Linked DNA regions of Homo sapiens. The protein of the gene in region 1 purifies or fractionates together with the protein of each later gene. This does not show direct contact. Each region holds a gene or a part of one and is shown in the gene's direction. Other genes may lie near its edges.

Evidence for each region.
Region 2: the proteins of DUSP15 (region 1) and ANKRD52 purify together in Homo sapiens (affinity purification with mass spectrometry, with the first as the bait; one large-scale study listed by BioGRID). This does not show direct contact.
Region 3: the proteins of DUSP15 (region 1) and SMC4 purify together in Homo sapiens (affinity purification with mass spectrometry, with the first as the bait; one large-scale study listed by BioGRID). This does not show direct contact.
Region 4: the proteins of DUSP15 (region 1) and CRACR2A purify together in Homo sapiens (affinity purification with mass spectrometry; one large-scale study listed by BioGRID and IntAct). This does not show direct contact.
Region 5: the proteins of DUSP15 (region 1) and LRPPRC purify together in Homo sapiens (affinity purification with mass spectrometry, with the first as the bait; one large-scale study listed by BioGRID). This does not show direct contact.
Region 6: the proteins of DUSP15 (region 1) and PCK1 purify together in Homo sapiens (affinity purification with mass spectrometry; one large-scale study listed by BioGRID and IntAct). This does not show direct contact.
Region 7: the proteins of DUSP15 (region 1) and POLE purify together in Homo sapiens (affinity purification with mass spectrometry, with the first as the bait; one large-scale study listed by BioGRID). This does not show direct contact.

What each region holds. Positions count from the first base shown.
Region 1 is NC_000020.11:31,864,053-31,867,527, reverse strand, and holds part of DUSP15 (dual specificity protein phosphatase 15), read left to right. Parts: intron 1-374; coding exon 375-457; intron 458-2,525; coding exon 2,526-2,575; intron 2,576-3,475. UniProt on the Homo sapiens protein: May dephosphorylate MAPK13, ATF2, ERBB3, PDGFRB and SNX6.
Region 2 is NC_000012.12:56,248,385-56,251,884, reverse strand, and holds part of ANKRD52 (serine/threonine-protein phosphatase 6 regulatory ankyrin repeat subunit C), read left to right. Parts: intron 1-3,014; coding exon 3,015-3,126; intron 3,127-3,318; coding exon 3,319-3,390; intron 3,391-3,500. UniProt on the Homo sapiens protein: Putative regulatory subunit of protein phosphatase 6 (PP6) that may be involved in the recognition of phosphoprotein substrates.
Region 3 is NC_000003.12:160,409,650-160,413,149, forward strand, and holds part of SMC4 (structural maintenance of chromosomes protein 4), read left to right. Parts: intron 1-2,270; coding exon 2,271-2,435; intron 2,436-2,676; coding exon 2,677-2,804; intron 2,805-3,500. UniProt on the Homo sapiens protein: Central component of the condensin complex, a complex required for conversion of interphase chromatin into mitotic-like condense chromosomes.
Region 4 is NC_000012.12:3,620,610-3,624,109, reverse strand, and holds part of CRACR2A (EF-hand calcium-binding domain-containing protein 4B), read left to right. Parts: intron 1-3,500.
Region 5 is NC_000002.12:43,887,990-43,891,489, reverse strand, and holds part of LRPPRC (leucine-rich PPR motif-containing protein, mitochondrial precursor), read left to right. Parts: intron 1-1,127; exon of another isoform or gene 1,128-1,267; intron 1,268-1,613; coding exon 1,614-1,756; intron 1,757-2,833; coding exon 2,834-2,890; 3' UTR 2,891-3,500. UniProt on the Homo sapiens protein: May play a role in RNA metabolism in both nuclei and mitochondria. In the nucleus binds to HNRPA1-associated poly(A) mRNAs and is part of nmRNP complexes at late stages of mRNA maturation which are possibly associated with nuclear mRNA export.
Region 6 is NC_000020.11:57,566,366-57,568,621, forward strand, and holds the end of PCK1 (phosphoenolpyruvate carboxykinase, cytosolic [GTP]), read left to right. Parts: 3' UTR 1-1,756; downstream 1,757-2,256. UniProt on the Homo sapiens protein: Cytosolic phosphoenolpyruvate carboxykinase that catalyzes the reversible decarboxylation and phosphorylation of oxaloacetate (OAA) and acts as the rate-limiting enzyme in gluconeogenesis.
Region 7 is NC_000012.12:132,673,843-132,677,342, reverse strand, and holds part of POLE (DNA polymerase epsilon catalytic subunit A), read left to right. Parts: intron 1-689; coding exon 690-797; intron 798-1,138; coding exon 1,139-1,249; intron 1,250-1,522; coding exon 1,523-1,608; intron 1,609-1,825; coding exon 1,826-1,945; intron 1,946-3,500. UniProt on the Homo sapiens protein: Catalytic component of the DNA polymerase epsilon complex. Participates in chromosomal DNA replication.

The sequences.
Region 1 (3,475 bases):
ACACCAGGTTGTTCCCATGTTTAAACTATTTGTGATATAAGCAGGACTGCAGAGAACATCATCCTCCACACACAGCTTTCTGTGTGAGCAAGCGCTTCTGTAGACAAGATTCCTAGAAGCAGAATTGCTGGGTCAAAGAATATGCCTGGGAAGGGTGTTTTGGATGGAAAGAACAGAATGAGCAAGGATGGGGATATGCTGTACTGTTACTTGCATGTGCCCCAGAAGCAAGAGGATCAGGGAGCCGGCAGAGCGTGGGCCAAGGTGGAGTGGTGGGGTGAGAGGGAGAGCTGGGCAGGCAGTGAGCTCCCTCCGCACTTGGCCATCAGGACATCCCGCCAGCCAGATTGGCTCAAGCATCCTGTTTCTTTCAGATGCCAAAGACCTGGATCAGCTGGGCCGAAATAAGATCACACACATCATCTCTATCCATGAGTCACCCCAGCCTCTGCTGCAGGTACTTCTTACCCCCATCCCAGGGCTATGCGGGGGTGGGAGGGTGCAGACCTGTTTATCAAATATCTACTATGTGCTAGGTGCTATGCTTCCTTCTTGACTCATGTTAACTCATTTGGTCTCCACCACTGGGCCATTTTACATTATCATCCCTATTTGGCAGTTGAGGCCCAGAGAGGTCAATTAACTCACCTGAGGTCACACATCCAGGAAGCTGAGGAGTTGGGGTATGAACACAGGCCATCTAGCACCAGAAGTCTCACACTGAACCTTAAAATGGCCCCCATATGGGCTTCCCATGACCCAACTGGATGGATGAATCCAAATGGATGACTGTGGGCTCTGTATCTTGCTATGCAACCTTGGGCTGTGACTTCACCTCTCTAGGGCTTTGATCCCTCAGCTCTGTCTGCCCCCAGAAGGCTGCTGTGAGGATGCAAAGGGACTGCAGGATGGTGAAGATGCTTTGCACACTGTAAAGCATGGTCCCCTCTAGGGCGGTTGGTGCTGGTATTATCAAGTCCTGGGAAAGGGGCATGAGGGTGTTAGGACCCAGCAGAGGAAAGTAATAAATCCAGACTACACGTGCTTATGTCAGGAACATCTTCACTGTTTATTTGCTCTATGACCTTGGGGACAGGACTTTGCCCCCTCTGAGCCTCAGTTGCCTGATCTGTAAAACGGGAACTTTATAACAGTACCCACTTCACTGAGTGGTTGGGAACCACATAAATAGATGCTCAACAAATCACAACTGATACTATAACAAATTTAATCATATTCTTATCCCATAAACAGAGCCTCTTCACCCTTATCTATTAGAGTCTGTATCATCCACTGGAGAGAAAGAACCATGGGTGGGAAAAGGTCCTGGAGATCTGAAATGAAGACCCGGTTCTGCCATAGACTTGCTGTGTGATCTTGGCCAAGGTCCTTCCCTTCTCTAGGCCTCAGTTTTCCCATATGTCAGATTTGATATTCTCTAACAGCAACCTCTAATAATCTATGATTTTCAATGTCATTCAGAGAAGAAATTTCCAGGCCATTGCAGTCTTATTTTGCCTCATAGGGCAGCCTCGTTTGGGAGTATTTGGAGTAAACAGTCACTAGAGTGCATGGGGAAGGTTGTCAAGTCATGAGTGTATTTACTAATGAAATGACAGCCTACACAATGAGTCTCTGCTCCTACGGCCCTTCCTGCTTCTCCCAAGCATCTCTCCTTCCCCCCTCCATCAGCAAATTTACCAGGCAGGGTTTGATAGTACCACACAAACCCAAGGCCAAATGTGTTGCAAAGTGAAATTGCAAACCTTGCCAAAGATGCAGGATGTCATGACCTTGGGGAATGTGAGTGAGAGAAGGGCTGGAATCTCACACAAAGCCATGGACAAATGAGAACCTGGCTGGTGGTCCCTTAGTTACTGCCAGTGACGGGCCTGGCCCCTGAAAAGAGCCATTTGAATATAAAAATGTTAAGACAGTTTCTCGAGAAAAGCAAGGAGGTCCTCAGGAGGCGGGCAAAAATAATCTTCATGATATTGTGTGGCTAATCAGGAAACAAAGGACATCACAGCAAGTTTGCTGGAAAAAATTCCTGACAATTTATTCCTTGATTATTCTCATAATCAGCACATCATTTTATAACCATGATTCCTGAAATGTATACTTGTTTTCATGATTTTTGTTTCTTTTCAAGATAATCAAATCTGCTCTACCTTTTTTACGATGTAATTTTGTAATTCCCATTTGGAGTGGAGTCCCTTTAAGTAGCCCTTTCCTAGCTACTTGATAAAGGTTCCTGGGTCCCTGTTGGGAGGGATAGGTGACGTCATGCCCACGCCGCTGATGGGGTTAGGAGACACCATGTGCTTAGAAGGTTCAGGAATCACAAGTGGTCACAGCTGGGAGGCCTCAGAGATGACAACTACTTTCTTTGGACAGAGAGGACCACAGTGGGCCAGAGAAGGGCAGGAACTGGGCTGGGGTTATGCCCTGCCTGGGCAGCTCGGACCAGCATCAGGGAGGGTTGCAGGCAAGGTCCCCTGCCTGAGTGTATTTTGTACTTGCAGGATATCACCTACCTTCGCATCCCGGTCGCTGATACCCCTGAGGTACCCATGTAAGTTCCCCTGGATGGACCCATAGATGGACAGACAGCTGCCTTCTGTGGTGGGGGAGGGGGAGGGGGTTTGAAGGAGGACAAAGTACTCAGGCCAGAGAGCTATCACAGGTGTTCAACTCAACCAGTCCCAGGTTTGACTCTGTCTCAACCATGCCCTTGTGATAGGCCCTTGGCCAAGACTCTCCACCTCCCCGAGCCTCAGTCTCATCAGCTATGAAATGGGAAAAGGACACTCTGTACCTTGGGACCAGCTACACCAGCTGATTTGAAAGGGTCATATTCAGCCTGTTCCTGGCCTTGGGGTTAAGACATCTGAGTTCCGGCCAGGCTCTGCCATTTACTTGCTGTGTGACCTTGAACAAATCACTTCCCCGCTCTGGGCCTCACCTGTAAATCAGGAGTGCATGATCAGAGTCAAGGAGGCTTTCGAAGATCAGATGACACAGGTCAAGGATCTAGGATAGGGCCTGGAGTATAACTGAGCTCAGAAAACGGGATTTTTGTTTGTGGCATCAGCAGTAGTGCCTCCCCGCTTGGGATGGAGCCAAGCAGACAGTGCTGCCCCTTGGGAATCTTGCTCCCAGCCTGCTGCTGCCCATCATTGTGCCCAGGTGCTCTGATTGCAGACCCCAGAGGAGTGGGACCCCTGTGTTTCCTCCCACCCATTTCTCTGAAAGGCCACAATAAACCCAACATGAAAACAGGGTCCACAGGAGGAGTGCTCCTGCCTAGATGGTGAGATTTGTCCTGACTGGTCTCTCTCACTGCCTGAAATGCCACCATTCTTGCTTCACACAAACACACCTCCAGCTCATACTAAGTACTGGCCCATATTCACTGCATGTGCTGGCTGACCTGGGGACCCCAGGGCTCTATGTCCCTTGCTATCCTGTAATT
Region 2 (3,500 bases), on another chromosome or scaffold:
CTTGAGCCCTCTGGGTGTAGTCCATAGTGGGCAAAGACAAAAGTATGAGATTGAAGCTCAGGAGCTTCAGGGGGAAAAAAAAACCCAAAAGTATGAGACATAGTTCCTTCCCTAAAGGAATGGATTTTTTTTTTTTTTTTTTTTTTGGAGACAGAGTCTCACTCTGTTGCCCAGGCTGGAATGCAGTGGTGTGATCTCAGCTCACCGCGCCCGGCTGGTCTTCTTGAGAGGATTAGAAAAGCTAAATGTACAAAATAATTTGTTTATTCCACAAGCATTAATTAAATATTTACTTACTAGGTTCCAAGTACTGTGCTAGATACTAAGGATAAAAGATGAGGCTGGGCGTAGTGGCTCAAGCTTGTAATCCTAGCACTTAGGGAGGCTGAGGTAGGCAGATCACCTGAGGTTAGGAGTTCAAGACCAGCTTGACCAACATGGTGAAACCCCGTCTCTACTAAAAATACAAAAAATTAACCAGGTGTGGTGGCACACGCCTATAATCCCAGCTACTCAGGAGGCCGAGGCAGGAGAATTGCTTGAACCAGGGAGGTGGAGGTTGTAGTGAGCCGAGATCACGCCACTGCACTCCAGCCTGGGCAACCGAACAAGACTCTGTCTCAAAAAAATTAAAATTAAAAATAGGCCGGGTGTGGTGGTTCACGCCTATAATCCCAGCACTTTGGGAGGCCGAGGCAGGCAGATCATCTGAGGTCAGGAGTTCGAGACCAGCCTGGCCAACGTGGTGAAACCCCGTCTCTACTAAAAATATAAAAATTAGCTGGTCATGTTGGCAGGCACCTGTAATCCCAGCTACTCGGGTGGCTAAGGCAGGAGAATCACTTGAACCAGGGAGGTGGAGGTTGCAGTGAGTCAAGATCACACTAATCCACTCCAACCTGGGCGACAGAGTGAGACTCTGTCTCCAAAAAAACAAATAAATAAATAAAATTAAATAAAAATTTAAAAAGGATGAATTGTCCCAAATTTCTGTCTTTCGAAAGCTAATAATCTATTGGGAAAGATAAATAAAAGGACACTTATGCATACTAATGTAAGATGTTAATGACGGGAAACTAGGTATAGGTTATGTGAGAACTCCCTGTACTATCTTCACAATTTTTCTTTTTCTTTCTTTTTTTTTTTTTTTAATTAATTTATTTTGTAGGTCAGGGATCTCTCTGTGTTGCCCACACTGGTCTCGAACTCCTGGGCTCAAGCAATCCTCCTGCCTCAGACTCCCAAAGTGCTGGGATTACAGATATGAGCCACCACACCTAGCCCACAATTTTTCTATAAATCTAATAATATTCTAAAACAAAAAGTTTATTTTTTGCTGGGCACGGTGGCACATGCATATATTCCCAGTTATTCAGGAGGCAGGTGCAGGTAAGGCAAGAGGATCATGCAAACCCAGGAGTTTGAGGCTGTAGTGCACTATGATCATGCCTATGAATAGCCACTGCACCCCAGCCTGGGCAGCCTAGTGAGACCCCGTCTCTAAAAAAAAAAAAAACCCACAAAAATCAGGTAGGCACAGTGACTCATGCCTGTAATTCCAGCACTGAGGTGGGAGGATTGCTTGAGCCCAGGAGTATGAGACCAGCCTGGCTAACACATAATGAGAACTCATCTCTATTTTATTTAATTAAATAAATAAATAAATTAATTAATTTATTTATTTATTTGAGATGGAGTCTTGCTCTGTCACCCAGGCTCTAGTGCAGTTGCGCGATCTCAGCTCACTGCAACCTCTACCTCCGGGGTTCAAGCGATTCTCCTGCCTCTTCCTCCTGAGTAGCTGGGATTACAGGTGCCTATCACCACGCCCAGCTAATTGTTTTTTTGAAGACCGAGTCTCACTCTGTTGCCCAGGCTGGAGTGCAGTGGCATGAACTTGGCTCACTGCAACCTCCACCTCCTGGGTTCAAGCAATTCTGCCTCAGCCTCCTGAGTAGCTGGGACTACAGGAGCACGCTGCCACGCCTGGCTAATTTTTTGTATTTTAGTACAGACGGGGTTTCACCATGTTGCCCAGGCTGGTCTTGAACTCCCGAGCTCAGGCGATCCACCTGCCTTGGCCTCCCAAAGTGCTAGGATTGCAGGCGTGAGCCACCACGCCCAGCCTAATTTTTGTATTTTTAGTAGAAACAGGGTTTCGCCATGTTGGCGAGGCTGGCCACGAACTCCTGACCGCGGGTGATCTGCCCACCTCAGCCTCCTAAAGTGCTGGAATTAAAGATGTGAGCAACCGAGCCAGGCCCCTGTCTCCATTTAAAATAAGTAAATTAAATAATTTTTTTTTAAGATTTATTTTTTTAAAAAGGACACTAAAATCCAAGAGGCTCAGCTATTACCTTCAGCAAGTTACTTCTCTATGCCTCAATTTCATCACCCACAGTAAGGATAAAAATAGTATCTACTTCATGGGATCTTTATGAGGATTAAATTATTTAATATACATGAAGTACTTAGAACTGTGCTTGACAGTAAGTGCTACTTTATTATTATTACTACTACTACAACTACTACTAAGGTATGAGAAGACTGCCAAGGGAGCACAGAGGAAGAGGCATCTTCCCCAGGGAAGGCTGGGAAAGGCCTCACAGAGGAGAGAAGCTGGGACTGAGTTTGAGATGAACAGGACTTATTCGGGTGGGCTGGGAGGAGAAAGCATCCTAGGGCAGGGGTTGGCGTGCCTGGAGGTGGGGAAAGCATGTTGGTCAGCAGAAGGCTGATAACTGAACATCATGCTCTAGGTTCTCTAGGAGAGCATTCAGAGGATAAAGGAGGGCATTGAAGCCAGAGGGGTTCAGGGCAGACCTTGAGAAGGTAAAGTGGGTCTGGAGCTGCCATTGAAGAATGGGTAGGATTTAGAGAACCTACCTAGAGCTGAGGACGGGTGGCGGCCAGGTAGGCCTGGAGGGCCTTGGTCCTCTCCTCTGGCCCTCCCAGAACTGTGCCCTCCTGGGCTGGGCCTGTCCCTGCCTCACAGTCTACCCCCGGCTCCCCAGCTGTCTGGAGTTCTTACTGGATAACGGTGCAGACCCCTCCCTGCGGGACAGGCAGGGCTACACAGCTGTGCACTATGCAGCCGCCTATGGCAACAGACAGAACCTCGAACTGGTATGTGTTGGGGCCCGGCCTGCAGGAGGGGAGGCAGGGGCAGGGCACAGGGTTTGTGGATTCCAAAACTAAGGGTTCAATCAAATGTGGTCTTTGGATCCAGAGGCTTAGTGGGGATTACTGCGAGTCGGGGACTGGGGTACTATCTTGGGAGTTCCAGAGTCTCAGCACCTACTTTCCTGTCCTTTGCAGCTCTTAGAAATGTCCTTTAACTGCCTGGAGGATGTGGAGAGCACCATTCCAGTCAGCCCTTTGCACTTAGCTGTGAGTCCCACGTCTTTTTTCTGTTGCCTTCCTTGTCCTACCTGTTCCCAGGCCCTAACAAAGGTGCCAGCACTTGTGAAGTTATCCTTCCTTCTGCCTTTTTGTGGGAG
Region 3 (3,500 bases), on another chromosome or scaffold:
TTTGGGATGGTTTTTCATTTTCTTAAAATAAGTGTTCAGATATTCTCCTTGAATTGGGTAGAATATTAATTGTCAGATATTGTTTTTTATTTGGATGATAAACACTAACCCACAGGATTTAAACTACAACTTCTAGACTAGGCATGGTGGGTCATGCCCTTAATCCCAGCATTTTGGGAGGCTGAGGCAAAAGGATCGCTTGAGCCCAGGAGTTCGAGACCAGCCTGGGCAACATAGAGGGACCACCATGTGTACAAAAAAAATTTTTTTTTAAAGATTAGCTGGGTGTGGTGGTGTGCATCTGTAGTCCCGGCTACTTGGGACACTGAGGTGGGCGGATCGCTTGAGTCTGAAAGGTCAAGGCTGCAGTGAGCTGAGACCACACCACTGTACTCCAGCTTAGGTGACAGAACAAGACCCTGTCTCAAAAAAATAATAAATGAGTGAACAAACAAACTGCAGCCTCTAGATCAGTAGTTCTCAGCTGACAGTAATTCTGCCCCTTTTCCCATAGGACATTCAGTAACGTCTGAAGACAGTTTCGGTTGTTATAGCTGGTAGAAGTGGGGATGCTACTGGTGTCTAGTGGGTGAAGGTCAGAAATGCTATTAAAGCATCTTATAATGCCCAGCATAGCTCTCCACAACAAAGAATATCCAGCCCAAAATGTCAGTAGTGCCACTGTTGATAAACCCTACGTAGATACAAACTTGAATAAGACTCTTGGCTTCCTCAGTGACTTAACGTTCATCCTGTGTAATCCAAAGGTTTGGGCATTTTTCCAGGCTTCAATCCTGTCTAAAACTTAAACTCTTGCTGCAAACATTTAGAGAGAACTAACAGTTGAAAGCAGAATAAAATACTTTATATAAATATCTACATATTTTCACTTATATACCGATTCATACATAATATAATGAATGTTATGGAAAATAACTTTTGGGGTAACAGTTTTACTTTGATAATCATTGTGCTTATAGACTGTCAGAAGTATCGAAAAGTGATTTATGCAAATAAAATTATTTCTTAATGAGTAGATTTTCAAATAAGCTGTTTTGTCCACTGTTATTGAATTGTTTACTTTTTGTAATTATGTTGAGGCTTTTGGTGAATTATGATGCTCTCATTAGTAAGTTTTACCCCACATTTTTAAGGTTCACCTGTATTCACTTAGGAAATAGGAATCACTAAGATATTTGAATTAAGAAAACAATATACTATTTTTAATGTGTAATTCTTTTTGTTGACTTTTTTCGTCTTTGCTATTTTGTTGAAAATAAGAGGTATATCTTTTTTCATTTGCCTGTACCTATTCTTCCATTGTAATAGTCTAGAGTACAAACAAGCTACTCCTATAACGTAGCAGCATTTGGCCTGAACATACTCAGACACAATTTTCTCTCCACCATCAAACTAAATGACTGCCTAGCAGTCAGCCTTGATGGTTACTTATTATGGATTTTTTTTCTCTTTACTCTTCATAATTAAACTGCATAAATGCAAATATGTAAAGTTAATCTAAGATTTTAATTACAGTTCAAAGTTGTTATATTAGTGATTACAAACTGAAAGTTTTCTGATGTCTTATGTACCAGTGCCATTAGTTTTCTCTAGTCAAGGTGGTCTGTTTGATTTCTGTTATTACCATGAGAAATAGGTAATATCCTTTTCTGTCAAAGGCTCTTGTTTTTAGAAAACTGAACATGTAAGTTTTTGACTACCTTTGAAACCCATTACTTGTTAAGGAACTCCTAAAAACCATGTTTGTAGAGAAAGTTGGTAATACTACTTTGGGACAGGGTTCCTAACACAGTTTAACCATGCAAGTGTTTTTGAAAATTCTTTGTTTTAGAACAGGAGCTTCAATTGTGTTATTAACAATTGATAATGTTTCCACTATAATCAGATTGCAGATTAAGTGAAAGCTTTCCTAAATTTTACTTAAAGAAACAAGTTTTATTTATTTATATTGAACATTCTAGTTGGGGAAATGAGTGTGTGTAAGTGGGTGTATATTACACTTTTATAAGGATTTATCTAAGGGAATATAAATTCATGTTTCATATCTCCCTGTGTAAAATTAAAACTCTTAGGAATACCAGTGAAAATAACATTTTTATTTATACCTTATTAAATCATTGCACTACTAACTGTACATTATTTAGATGTTTATTACTCTTGGCTTTATTATTTAACTGCTCCCAATTCTCACTTAAGATTGATTTAGCTAAACATACACAGTGAGTATGAAATATAACTTTTTTTTAAAGGGTGAAGTTGAACAAATTGCTATGATGAAACCAAAAGGCCAGACTGAACACGATGAGGGTATGCTTGAATATTTAGAAGATATAATTGGTTGTGGACGGCTAAATGAACCTATTAAAGTCTTGTGTCGGAGAGTTGAAATATTAAATGAACACAGAGGAGAGAAGGTGAATCATCTGTAGACTTTCATTGTAAATCAGAATGTTTCATTTATGATCTAACAAATTTTAGTAAGTCAGATATTCATGTTATAATACTTAATGAAGAAGTGTTATATTGAAATTTATATCTTAACATTTAAGATGAACATTCTCCTTATTAACTGTTTTTATCTAATGTTTGCATATTTTAAGTTCATATTGTACATATGAAGTGTGTATTCAGTCTTTAAACTTTTAATTTCTGTAGTTAAACAGGGTAAAGATGGTGGAAAAGGAAAAGGATGCCTTAGAAGGAGAGAAAAACATAGCTATCGAATTTCTTACCTTGGAAAATGAAATATTTAGAAAAAAGAATCATGTTTGTCAATATTATATGTAAGTGCCTTGATTGATATTACCAATTTTTATATTAGTTTTTAACCATTAAGTCAAAGCCCTTCTCTTTTCCTAGAGAAACATGAAGACTGAAGTGAAAAAAAATCTCTAAATATTGTTTTGTGTGACTGAATGTGTTAGCTCATGCCTGTAATTCCAGCACTTTGGGAGGCTAAGGCAGGAGGATCACTTGAGGCTGGGAGTTCAAGACCAGCCTGGGCAACATAGCAAGACCCCATCTCTACAAAAAAAGGAATTATGTGGTGAACTTATCCAATGTGAGGACTATCTGGCTGTGACACCTGTCATCCCGTTGATCACCAGGGTTGAATTTATTAAATTAGGCATATTAATTCATTGAAGTTGACTTTTTAGTATCCTGCTTTAAGTTGGGAGGTAGGTTCACAGGTATTTATTACTGTACTCAGTCCTTTTACGTGTGCACTTTTTAAAATTCGTGTAATAGCAGATCTGATTTTTTTCAGCTTATGATGAACTGTTTTTTGAGATGGGCTGTTTCACCCAGGGTGGAGTGCAGTGTGTGATCACGGCTCACTGCAATCTCAACCTTCCGGACTCAGTTGATCCTCCCACCTCCACTTCATGAGTAGCTGGGACTACAGGGCACACACCAACACACCTGGCTAATTATTATTATTATTATTGTTGCTGGGATTTTTTTGTTTTTATTTTTTC
Region 4 (3,500 bases), on another chromosome or scaffold:
TGCTCGGGGGAGGTAGTGGAGTTCCCTGAAAGGAAGTTCTTACTATCCCATCTTGATCACTTCCTGGCCATGAAACTTTGGCCAATCATTCAACAAGGCAGCAGACCAAATGCTCCCTCCTGGCCCCTAAATTTCTACAGTGTATGATGGCATTTGACTATCTCTCTGGGAGGCCAAGACGGAGCAGGAATGTGTGTGGATGAGGAGATTCTGGAGGGTCCTTCCAGCCCAGAGGGAACCAAAATCCTTTGGTGCAAGAGAGCACCAGCACTGCTTGATGAGATGGGAAGACTGTGGCCTTGCCCTTGTTCTGCTATTTCACCCAGTCTAGGCAACTTTACCTTGCCTGCAGGCCTTCTGCAGAAGAGGCCCAGCAGATGCCCTCTGTGCCGATTCTCCTGAGTGCCTTATAGGAAGTCACCGCAGGCAGTCTTTCGGCCAACTCGGCATTTCCAACCCACCCCCAATTTCTTATCTCAATTGGGTAGAATTGGTTTAACCATTCCAATCTGGAAAAGAAACTAGTCAGGCTCTAAGGCCCCACGTGTGGCCATGGGACAAACTGGACATCAGAAGACTCTGGGGCCTGTGTCGGGTAGAGAAAATAGAAATTAGAACGCCAGCCTGTACAAGCCTGTATGGGCTGGTATTTCCCCCAGAGCCGGATTGCTGGCCCCCAGTGTCTGCAGTCCTGGGATGCTGAGCTTCTTGTTTAGAGCCTCTTGTCGTTCTGATGGCACTAGATTCCTGGGCATGTGAGTCGAGGAAGTGAAATAGAATTGGCGGAGTTAAGCCGAATAGACCAGTGTTTCCGAGCTGGAAAAAAACGTGGAGATTAATCTAATGCAACCTCTTGTTTTATAAGTAAGAAAAACTATGATCCAAAAAGAGGAAGTGACTTTCCCAAAGGCGCCCACACTTGTCAGCAGCACCACCCGATCTAGAAGCGAGGGCTTTGCCACACTGCACTGCTTCTCTCTTGTCCTGTGGTCCATGGCTGAAATCTGCTCCTGAAAAGCAGGTGTTCATTTACTTTTCAGTCCTTCTTGCTTCTCTCTCAAAGCAGAACAGTTCTTCAGCTCAAGGGGTCCTGGCCCACTTCCCTCTCCCTTCCTGGGCTGCTAGCTAAACCTCATTCTGCGATCTTTGTCATTGGTGACAATGTACAGCATGGTGCAAAAAATAGCAGTTTGATTTTTTTTTCTCCACGTTCCAAGTTGAGCTTGAAGTGCTGGCAGTTTAAAATGAACCACACAAATAAATCTTGTTTTGACTCATAGTCCAGGGGATGGATAAATATGGAAACCCCCAAGATATAATTTTGCAGGCATTTTTTTTCTTAGCATAACTGCATGCTTTAATGTGCTGAAAAAATTTTTGCTCTAGCTCCAGAGAAATAGCAGCACTATCCCAGCTAAGTGCTTTTTCATGCCTCCTAGCAAATAGATATTAAAACGCACGCACACACACACACACACATGCACATAGGCAACAACCAACCAAACCCAGCAGCTGCACATTCTGAGCTGAATGCCAATCCACTGCTCCAAGTTGACAGCTCTTGTTATTTAAAGTCAGAGATGGGTGATCTTTTGAATTTCAACAAGTCTGTCTTCCAACAAGCTCAAGTTCACAGAAAGGCAGCTGAAATAACTGAAGGTGGAGGGAAGGCTCTCTGTTAGAGGGTCATAGAACAGAACCTGGCTTTGGAACAGAGAGACACAGAAAAGAGGAGAGACTCAGATGAGTCACATGGAGAGATGGTGACAGAGCTAGGGCAGAACCCACATCTCCTAAAGAGAGATTGTGTGCCTGATGAAGGAGCTAAGATGACTTCACTCCAACCTGTCATGCTGATGGGATTTTTACCAACATCTCTCACAGTCTCAAGACAACAGAGTTTGAGTAGACCTGAGACCTGTTCACCAAAGCCCTAGGGGCTTGAAGGAGGTGTTGCTTCATCTAGGAGGTAATTTTGAACATCTTGTGCTGAGTGGTATGCAGGCTGAAAACCTAGTTAGGTATGAGAAAGGTGTAAAGTTTAGACAGATAGTTCCAGACTTTTGGGGTCAAAGTCAGAGAGGACCATGAGACACCTACCCCAATACCAGCTCCTCTCCCTGCCCCTGTGCCAGAGACTGATGACCTTGGGCCAGGGTGATGGTGACTGACTGTGATAGTTAGCACACTCCCTGGTCTTATGGGTATTCTCATTTATTTTTGCCAAATATTTGGAGATGAGTCTGTTTCTCCTTTATCGGTGGCAGGCCAGGGTCCCTGCAGGGAAGCCAGTTGTCCAGAGTGGCTGTGTAAGAGAGGAACAATACAAAGAACAGAAACCGCAGCTCCTGCTGAGTGCTTTGCTTTTAAATTTTTTTTTTCTGCTCCTTCTAAGCTCCTTTATTTTTATATCCAGGAATTGCTTTGGTTTTTTTTTTTTTTTTTTTTTTTTTTTTTTTTTGACAGAGTCTCTCTCTGTCACTGAGGCTGGAGTGCAGTGGCACAATCTTGGCTCACTGCAAGCTCCGCCTCCCAGGTTGAAGCAATTCTCTGCCTCAGCCTCCCAAGTAGCTGGGACTACAGGTGCCCACCACCACACCTGGCTAAATTTTGTATTTTTAGTAGAGACAGGGTTTCACCATCTTGGCCAGGCTGGTCTTGAACTCCTGACCTCATGATCCACCCACCTCGGCCTCCCAAAAAAAAAAAAAAAGAAGAAACCTGCCCTTTCTTTTCCCAGGACGCAAGAGGCACCATTGCTGTTTATGGTGCATAGGACCCAGATGTTGGGCTTATGACCCATTCCCTACCCCATCCTATTGGGTCATTCAGTATCCATCATCCCCTCTGCAAGCGAGGAAACAGAAGCCAGTGCCCATTCCAAATAATACCAAAACCTGGGGTAGAATTCTGCCCTGGGATTTCAAGTCTGATGCTCATATTTTCAGAGTTTCCATGTCAAGAAATCCCACAAGCCTTAATCATTCCTCACACATAAATCTACAAATATCTCTCTCCCATGTGCTCTAAACAGCAAGCCGCTTGGCCCATTTCCCTGCTTCCTCCTCCTTTCTTCCCTTTCCGTGAAAAGCTCTTCGCACAAGTATCCCGTGGCACAGCACGGTCAGAGGAGGGGGTGTTCCCATTAGTGAACGCTCTAGCTAATAGGGGGCCACAGGGTTCCATATATGCCATCAGTGGCTTTCTCACTTTCAAGTAGTTGGAATATGTACAATCCACTTAGGACATCAACTGCAGTGTCCAGAATTTAATCTATTTTTGATGGGTCAGAAGACACTGTAAGATCTTGTAGCGCCTTTGAGTCATCATTGCAAACACAAGTTACCATCTGACCAATAGATACCATTTTTAGAGGGTTCCAGTTAATAAGATACTAAGTAGCAGAGACTTGATTGGAAATAAGAATCTAGAGGAAAAGGTTGGAGAAGTGAGGACCCATATACTAAAGAGTTCTCATAATTCAGTGCTTATGGTGTTGA
Region 5 (3,500 bases), on another chromosome or scaffold:
GGTTGAAATATTCCAGGAATTACCAAAATGTGACACAGAGACACAAAGTAAGCACATATTGTTGGAAAAATGGCATTGATAGACTTGCCCAAGGCAGGGTTACCATAAACCTTCAATTTGTAAATAACGCAACATCTGTAAAGTGCATTAAAGCCAAGGTATGCCTGTAATGTGAAATAGTGTCAAGCGCATAAATCTGTGTGTGTTACTACTAAATTAGGTAATCCATTTTGGGAGGAAGGTAGAAAATCAAGAAGTAAAGAAAGGCAAGATGCCAGAATTTTCGGAGCAGCTTCCTAGAAGATAGAGCTTGAGCCCTTAAAGGGTTCAGCTCCTCAGGAAGGGAAATAAAGGATTTACACAAGAAGTTGACTTCATGGAAACAGCAAAGATGTGTTCCAACTCCACTAAGAGCTGATGAGTCACCCTCATTCCACTTTGGGAGACTCTTTGATTGCTGAACGTCTCACCTCTGTCTTAGGGGTTCCCCTGGTGCTGCCGGAGTTGCGGTTGACAATATCAGAGTCAGTGTAGGGCAGGGGTTTATGTGATGCTTAGATGCTAACAATCTAATGCAAAATTAAGGAGTTGAATTACCAGCAGTAATTGTTAGCAGAGCCCTTACCATCTCCATGGTAAACTAAAAAATTTCCACAAATCAGCCACAAGTAGAGAGCCAGCCAAATTTGGCTCCTAACATATTTCATCATTCACTTAAGTGAAACTAGTGTAACTTGTTAATGTCTCCTTATAGGTTTTGCTTTTGTTTGTTTTTTGAGATGGTGTCTCGCTCTTGTTGCCCAGGCTGGAGTGCAGTGGCACCATCTCGGCTCACTGCAAGCTCCACCTCCCGGGTTCACACCATTGTCCTGCCTCCGCCTCCCAAGTAGCTGGGACTACAGACACCCGCCACCACGCCCGGCTAATTTTTTGTATTTTTAGTAGAGACAGGGTTTCACCATGTTAGCCAGGATGGTCTCGATCTCCTAACCTCGTGATCCGCCTACCTCGGCCTCCCAAAGTGCTGGGATTACAGGCGTGAGCCACTGCGCCCGGCCTATAGGTTTTTTGTGTGTGTGTATCATTGTAGCTAACTATACTTTCCATATTTGTTTATTTTACAATAGAAAAATGAAAAGCTTTTTTGATGTTGAGCTGATGATCTTGATGTTGATGTAGATTTCTACATAATTGACATGTCCCTCTCCACAACAGTTCCTGGATTATCTTGATTTCACAGTGGTTTTAAGCCAAAGGGGATTGAATGGTGTGTATTATTTTATAACTGAGGACTTCAGTTTGTGGTCACTTGAACTATCATAGGTCTTAAATAATGTAATAACCTAAGTGAATGGTATCAATATTATTCTAAAGTCCTTTAAATGTAGCCATATTTGTCATTTTCTTCTCCTTCAAAGTGAGTGATGCCGAATGAGGGATGTAGAGAAGTGAGGGAGATGGTAGATTCTGAATGTGGCTTCTTACTGAAAGTAGTTAAGTGTTCATTTGCCGTGGGATAAAGGGATCCAGCCGTCCCTGAGTGGCTGTTTTGGTGAAAAGAGTAAGATAGGTTGTCTTTATCTCTGATTAATATATTTTTTTCTTTATGTCAGTCTCAGAGAAAGATGTCACATCTGCTAAAGCACTGTATGAACATTTGACTGCAAAGAATACAAAATTGGATGATCTGTTTCTAAAGCGTTACGCATCTTTGCTGAAGTATGCTGGAGAGCCTGTCCCTTTCATTGAACCCCCTGTGAGTATTTCTTAATTAAGGGGAAAAAATACCTCTGCAGATTTATGTGCACTTCATAACAATGTGTAAGAAAATAAGTTGAAGACTTAATTACATGAGGATTAGATCTCTGTGAAGAGCCCTCAGGGGATGGCTTGAGGGACTGAGCAGCATGCCTTGGCTGCGGCAGTCGGAGAACATAGCTCTCTGGGGCCACAGTTTAAAATACAAGGTCTGTCTCAGACCTTCAGCTATAGGCATGGATTTACCAAATGTCCTTGGGGCAGTTCTCTCATTTCAACTTGAAATAGGATTTAATGGCCTGTAGTTCAACAGCCAAGCATATTATGTCAGTGGTAATTACTTGTTCATTTACATAAGTTGGTTTTTATTTCTTCGTCTAGGAAATTTTGCCTTTTTTTTTTTTTTTTTTTTTTTTTGAGATGGAGTCTCGCTGTGTTGCCCAGGCTGGAGTGCAATGGCACGGTCTCGGCTCACTGCAACCTCCGCCTCCCAGGTCCAAGCGATTCTCCTGCCTCAGCCTCCCAAGTAGCTGGGATTACAGGGGCCTGCCACCATGCCTGGCACATTTTCGTATTTTTAGTACAGATGGGGTTTCACCATGTTGGCCACGCTGGTCTTGAACTGCTGACCTCGTGATCCGCCCACCTCGGCCTCCCAAAGTGCCGGGATTACAGGCGTGAGCCACTGTGCCCGGCATGTTTTCTTTAATAAGAGAAATCACATATGCACAATTCCTTTTTGTTATGTCATTGAACTGAGTCAATACACCGTGTTTATTTCAAACACCTCAGCCTTCCATACCCATACCTCCATATGTGCACACACACATGCTTGCACATACACACGTATACACACACGCACCCTACCTCCTGCTGCTAGCTTTAACTCTGAACCCGAGGCCCTTGAACTTGTGATTTCATGAAACAAGGAAGGAGTACTGAAGCTTGAGGGGCAGCATCTTCCATGGGCCTGGCAGTCTTAGCTACCAGTTGGTAGTGTTTTATGATTTTTTAAGTTATGTACCATCACCTCTTGCTGGTATCTCTAACTTCCCTCTTTTTTTCTCCTTAACAGGAAAGCTTTGAATTTTATGCACAGCAGCTAAGAAAATTGAGGGAAAACTCTTCTTGAAATAACCAGGCGATACTTTGTTTTGTATATATTTGTGATTCTGTGTCTACATGTTATTTTGAAGTATATCTGAGGGAAAAATAAATGAAAATTTTCTTTATGTACTTATGTATGTGTGATGCATGTTCAAAGTCTTATTGACCATAACTCTGTGCACTTGGTTATTGGACATTTTTGGAGTTTTTTTCTCTGGGAAAAATCGATAGTGTTTTCTTCAATGCTGCTGCTGTGTGAAGCCATACTTTTTCAGGATTCTTCCCCTAATTGGCTCTTTGGTTTCCCTGCTCTGTTTCATTTATTTCATTAAAATGTTATTCCTTTATTTAAGATTCACTTATTAGTCTGCTGTTTCTCTGAAAAATTTTAGAGCTAGGTATAGTGACCGTGAACTTTCTAACGCATAATATTCTGTGATACAGCCATTCCGTACATGTGTGAAGTCCTGCATAACTTTCGAACTTTGTTAAATGTTGGCACTAGGAGTCATCAGATCTAGGCTTCATCATTTTCCAGTGAGAAGCAGAGACCCAAAGGGCCTGTTACTTGTGCTTGGTCAGGGGACTGTCTGTCATGCCTGGAGGCTCTTCGGCACACTTCCCCATCTTTCCCT
Region 6 (2,256 bases), about 26 Mb from region 1:
TACACCATTGTTCCTTACCTTTACATAATTGCAATATTTCCCCCTTACTACTTCTTGGAAAAAAATTACAAAATGAAGTTTTATAGAAAAGATGGATTTGCTTTGCTTGGTTTTTCTTATTTGAGCTACCAAGAGGAGAGAACTCTGATTAAATATCTTGTGATTTAAATCCTGCCCCCTCCCCAAGAAGGTGGGGACGTTCAGAATCACACTTGAAGAGGGGGTGCATTGCCTGGTCCCAGGGAGAAGGAGGGAGCAGATGGGGAGGAATGAGGCAGGGAACCATGGTTGGGGTTTTCTGAATTTGCTGAAGCCACTAGTTGGCATCCTTTAACAATTCTACAAACCTTTAGATGGTGAGGCTTATGTGGCAGGACTGGGAGGGTTTAATGCATGCTTTTTGACAGTTTGGATCTGGAGGGGTCTCAGGCTTCCACAAAAATTACATTGTGGACAGTTTCATAGGATTTTGCCTTTTAACTCTTCAAAGCAACAGTTTTCTCAACTGTCATCCCCGCGGGGGAGCAGAGGAAGACAAGTGAGAAGGAAAAGGGGACAGGATCTGGGTTGAGCAAGCATTAATTGAGCGCCTTCTGTATCCCGGACATCATGCCAACACCATGGGCTGCCCGAGAAGAGAGGTGGGTGGTTTGGTCCCCAGCTCTGCCTTGAACCCTCACCTGCTCTCCTCTACTCCCAGTGTTTATTGGATATTCCAGAACAGTCCAAACGAACCATAAACTTTATATCACAGATTCAATCTGTGTAAATACTATTATCTTCAAGTTGTAGTTTCTTTCTTGGGCCCAGGCTGTGAAATTGGCTTCACCCCTACCACACCCCAGCGGGCAGGCTTGTTCTTATGTCACACTCCACCCCTCCAGTCTCCTCAACTGGAAAACTTGCCTCTTTTCCTCACTTCCTCTGCTCCTTACAATGGCTTCATATGGAAGGTGAAGCTGAGATCACCCCAATTTTACAGGTGAGGAAACTGAGGTCAAGCTAGGAGCGTCCAGCGGGGCTGAGAAATTGCCAGGATTTCCTTCCCCATTAAGGAGCTGAGAGTCTTAGCTCCAGACACGTTGGCTTGTTAGAATATCAAAACCACCGAAGGGGAAAAACCACTTACTGGAATTAAATGCTATCTGCTGTATTAGTTTAAATCAGTGGCGTTCAAACTTGTTTCTCCTTTTCACTGCGGAACACGTTCTTGACATGTACTTGACTCAGAGTCCCATGTCTAAAGGAGACAGAGCCCAAGGCAGCCCACCTGAAGCTGGGGAGGGAGTCCAAAGTGCAAGCCACCTGGTCTCCATTTCCCCGCCCCTTGGGGGCCTTTGGGCAGCTCCTTGGACCCCTGAAAGAGGCCACCAGGATAAACTTTGTTAAAATGCATGCCTTGTGCCCCACTGTCCTATTACGGGCTTTCAGTAGTCTCCACTCCCTCGGCAGGCAAAGACACTGGCCATCTCCAAATTCCCTCCCCTCCTGCACAGCATCAGCCACCTGGCAAGCAGTCTCACATAGGACCATTTGCCAGCAGGCCCTGCAAGCCTGGGGGACAGCCTAGAGGAGGTGACTTACATACACAGCATAAGAGTTTTCAGGAGACCAAAAAGATTCAATATATGTCATTAACTCCTGACTCAGTTTCCCCAAACCATGCCTCCTGAGTGCTCCCTCTGTCTCCAAATCCTGATTTTTGTGCGCGGACCCCTGTCTACAATAAACAGGATCCTATGACTTCTTTCTTCAATGTTCTCTTGTCGTGCCTTCAGATGATGCAAAGTATGTAAGCTAAGCCCACTTGCAGGAAGCTCACAGAAGGCAAGAGGCTCATCACTTGAAAATACGGTTGGAGTGAGATGGAAAGCCCAGAGTCTCCTGATTCCTGGTCTACCACTGGACCACATGACTCCAAAACCAACACTGTGACTGACGTCCTCTACTGGAGTCCAGTGTAAGAGCTGTCCCCTGACCTCCAGGAAGCTGTGTTGCAGTCTGGGTTAAAGACCAGAAAACAATAGTTACACAGCAAATGTTGAACCAGGACAACAAACCTGCCCTTATTCCCAGTCGAGTCACTTAGGGGGCACTGACAGGTAGGCAGGCGGGGTGGCTAGGTGGGGCCGGGGCACACTTGGGAGTCAGGAGTTACAGGGCTCTTTCTCTTCTCTCCCTCTCCCTGGGGACCCACCCTAACCTGGACACCCCCGGGCTGCTCACTCGGCCCTCTGGATGCCAACAGCATGCACC
Region 7 (3,500 bases), on another chromosome or scaffold:
CTTCATCCTAAAATTTCCAGTTTTCTGGAGAGAATATTCTTCAGTGCTGGAGAGTGAATCTGACTCAAAGATATGTTTGCTGCTTTTCCCCCAAATACTTTATTAAAGGAAATATGGAGTTAGAATTTTTCATCAGTTTCTGACAGTATCATTTCCTTTTTTGTTGTATATCACTGTATGACATCAGTGTTTGAGCTAGGCAGGATTTGGACACTCGAGGGAAAGCTGGGACTTCCGTTTGGGTAGTTGATAGTGAAGGGACATGGTGAAAAATGGATTTGTAACTAGAAGGCCTTGGTTCAAACATGACTTTGTGGTGTTGGGAAAGTCTTTGTATTCAGTTTTCTCTTTTCCGAAATGAAGATATCATCTCTGTGCCACAGTTACCTTTCAGAGTTGTCATAACCACCAGAATGAGGTGATGTCTTTTGAAGAGTTTTTCTCCTAAAGTTCTGTGATTTTAGGCTTGTCCTGTGATCAGCTGCTCTCTTAGGTATGTCAGTTTTCATACCATAGGGAGTCGTGATACTCTTGATGTAGGTTGGTTAGTCTTAGGGTCCTTCTCCCAGCTCTAGAGCCTTTTGACTCTTTTAACAACCAGAGGGAGGTAGAGCAGGCTGGGGGTGGGTGTTCAGGGAGGCCTAATGGGGAGTTTAGAGCTTGGCTTTATGCTTATTTTGTCCCCACAGGACCCTGTGGTTTTGGCATTTGACATTGAGACGACCAAACTGCCCCTCAAGTTTCCTGATGCTGAGACAGACCAGATTATGATGATTTCCTACATGATCGATGGCCAGGTGAGCAGGTGGCTTCTGGGAAGTAAGCTCCTGGGATGGGGACCTTGTCTGGTCCCCATACTACAGCAGCATCTGCCCCACTGTTAGTATTTGTTGAGTGAATAATGAGTTAGTCCAGGAATGGGAGCAACCAAGCCGTTCCGACCTCCAGCTGTACCCTCCCCTTTCGAGTGGGAATCCACACACAGAGCGTCTCTTCTCAGGAAGCTTAAAGCACTTTCACATTGCTGTGGACTTCTTTGTAGTGAGAATCTCTAGGCAGAGTGTGTGGGCAGGGTGGGAACGCCATTTCTTGGCTTTGCAGCCTCTGACTTGTGCTGATTGCTAATGAACTTGGCTAGGGCTACCTCATCACCAACAGGGAGATTGTTTCAGAAGATATTGAAGATTTTGAGTTCACCCCCAAGCCAGAATATGAAGGCCCCTTTTGTGTCTTCAATGAACCCGATGAGGTAAGGAGGTATCACTTGGGAAACTACCCGGTATTGTGGGAAGAACGGACATGTGGATCTTTCCAAGGCCTCAGGCATTCCGTCAGATCAGAATTGCAGCTCCATGAGCTTTGTTCTCAGGGTATGACCGTCTTTTCTGCCAGAGACGGGCGGAGGGGCGGGGCAGGAATAAGGGCCAACATGAGGCTGCTGCTTCTGAACTTTGGGAGAGGAATTTGGAATAGCTTGAAGAAGAGAAAGAGCAGACCTCTGACTGCTGTGACTTGGGTTCAGGCTCATCTGATCCAAAGGTGGTTTGAACACGTCCAGGAGACCAAACCCACCATCATGGTCACCTACAACGGGGACTTTTTTGACTGGTGAGTCTGTGTCTTCTCTATGAGTAACTGGGCAGCATTTGAGAGGGAGGGCGTTGCGTGGTGCAGGGGCGCTTCCCATGTCGACTTAGGAGGTGGCTCCTGGGTTCACTCTGCACCTCCCGTGTCTGGGTTCCTCCCTGGGTCTGAGGGAGGAATGGAGAAAGGGGCATTAGAGCCTGACCTGCCCACTTGCTTGTCTGTCCTCTTTCCAACCCAGGCCATTTGTGGAGGCCCGGGCAGCAGTCCACGGTCTGAGCATGCAGCAGGAGATAGGCTTCCAGAAGGACAGCCAGGGGGAGTACAAGGCGCCCCAGTGCATCCACATGGACTGCCTCAGGTAGGGGCCACAGAGCAGCATGGCTCCTCACTGCTGTCCGTGAGCGAGATCTGAAGGCCTCTTGCAGACTGTGCTGTCACCACATCTCATGGGAGGAGGGTGGCCTCCGAGAGGCCGTTTCAGGTCACCCAAGAGTATGGCAGCTGCAACCCTGCCAGGGCCCGGGATGTGCTGTCTTTGACTGTTGACTGACAATTCATCAGTGACCAGGCACATTGAGCATCAGCCTCTGGGGTGGGGAAGCCGCTGGAAAGACGCACTCAGCTGACAGGTCCCAGACCTAGGACCTCATGGAGCTGCTCTGCCCAGGCAAGGTTGGGATGTGGCAGCCCGGCTGCCTCACAGGACAAGCCTCACGGGACAACCACAGATTCCATATGAGCTAGGGTGGGAGGCAGCTCAGAGCTTCGGAGAGTCACGGCGTTCGGGGGCTCTGACATGACTGGTTGGGAAGACAGGTGGATGTGGAAATGCCAACAGAAGGAGGCTGGAAGGGAAGGAAGGGAAGGGAGGGAGGAAAGGAGGGAAGGGAAGGAAGGGAAGGGAGGGAGGGAAGGAAGGGAAGGGAGGGAGGGAAGGAAGGGAATGGAGGGGCCTCCACGGCCTCTGTATTCTGCACAGTGCCACTGGGGTGCTTGCAGCCTGAATGCGTTTCTGTTTAGCTCTGATGCTCAGCACTTGGCTTGGAGAGGGAGGCCAGGAGGCTGGGGCCGGTTTAGCGTGTGACGGTGTGACAGTCCTGATCCAAGGCAGGGAGTGAGGGTTGTGAGGATTCAGGATCTGTCATGTGGGGCAGGGGGAGGCCCAGGGATGCTGGTTCTTAGGGAGGGGTTGGCACCTGGGGTTTTTGTGCCATCCGTGGAGACAGGGAATGGGTAGAGAAGGGGCTTGAGGCAGGAGGTGACCCTGCTACCGATATGCTAGCCTGGAAGCCCCACCCATATGGGGGCCCTGAAGACCACCATGAGGCTTGGTTTGGGCTCGCACTGTAGATTGGGACTCACTGGGTTGCGGGTGGGTCTTGGTGAAAGCTGGGGTAGTGGATGAACTGAAGGCAAGAGGTAAAGTGAGAGAAGAAGGCCACAGGGTGGAGGCTGCGGGGGGTGGAGACCGGACATGACCCCTGGACAGCTGCTCCAGGGAATGCGTCTGTAGGGAGGAGGTAGAGACAGGTTCCGGGTAGAGTGTGGGGGGCCTTCTTTTCTTAATTTTTATTTTTTATTTATTTTTTAAATTTTTATTCTTCTTGGCATCTGATCACATCTTGCCTTCTATTAAAGGAGGGTGGGCTTGAGTGTTTCCGTGCTGAAGGGACAGTGTGAGGAGAGAAGATCAGTGTGGTTGATAGAACTAGGCCCCAGGGGTGCAGACCTGAGGTCTGGGGAGAGGCCCAAGGAGGTGGGGCGCCCGTCGGAGAGGCCACAAACTCTGCTGAGGATGGGAGGAAGGCGAGGGCCGGAAGGACCAGTCCTGGTGCTTCCTTGTGTTGTGGATAGGTCTGTGAGATTAACTAGATCCTGATGAAGGGTTTTCACAAGGTGTCTACACCATGTGG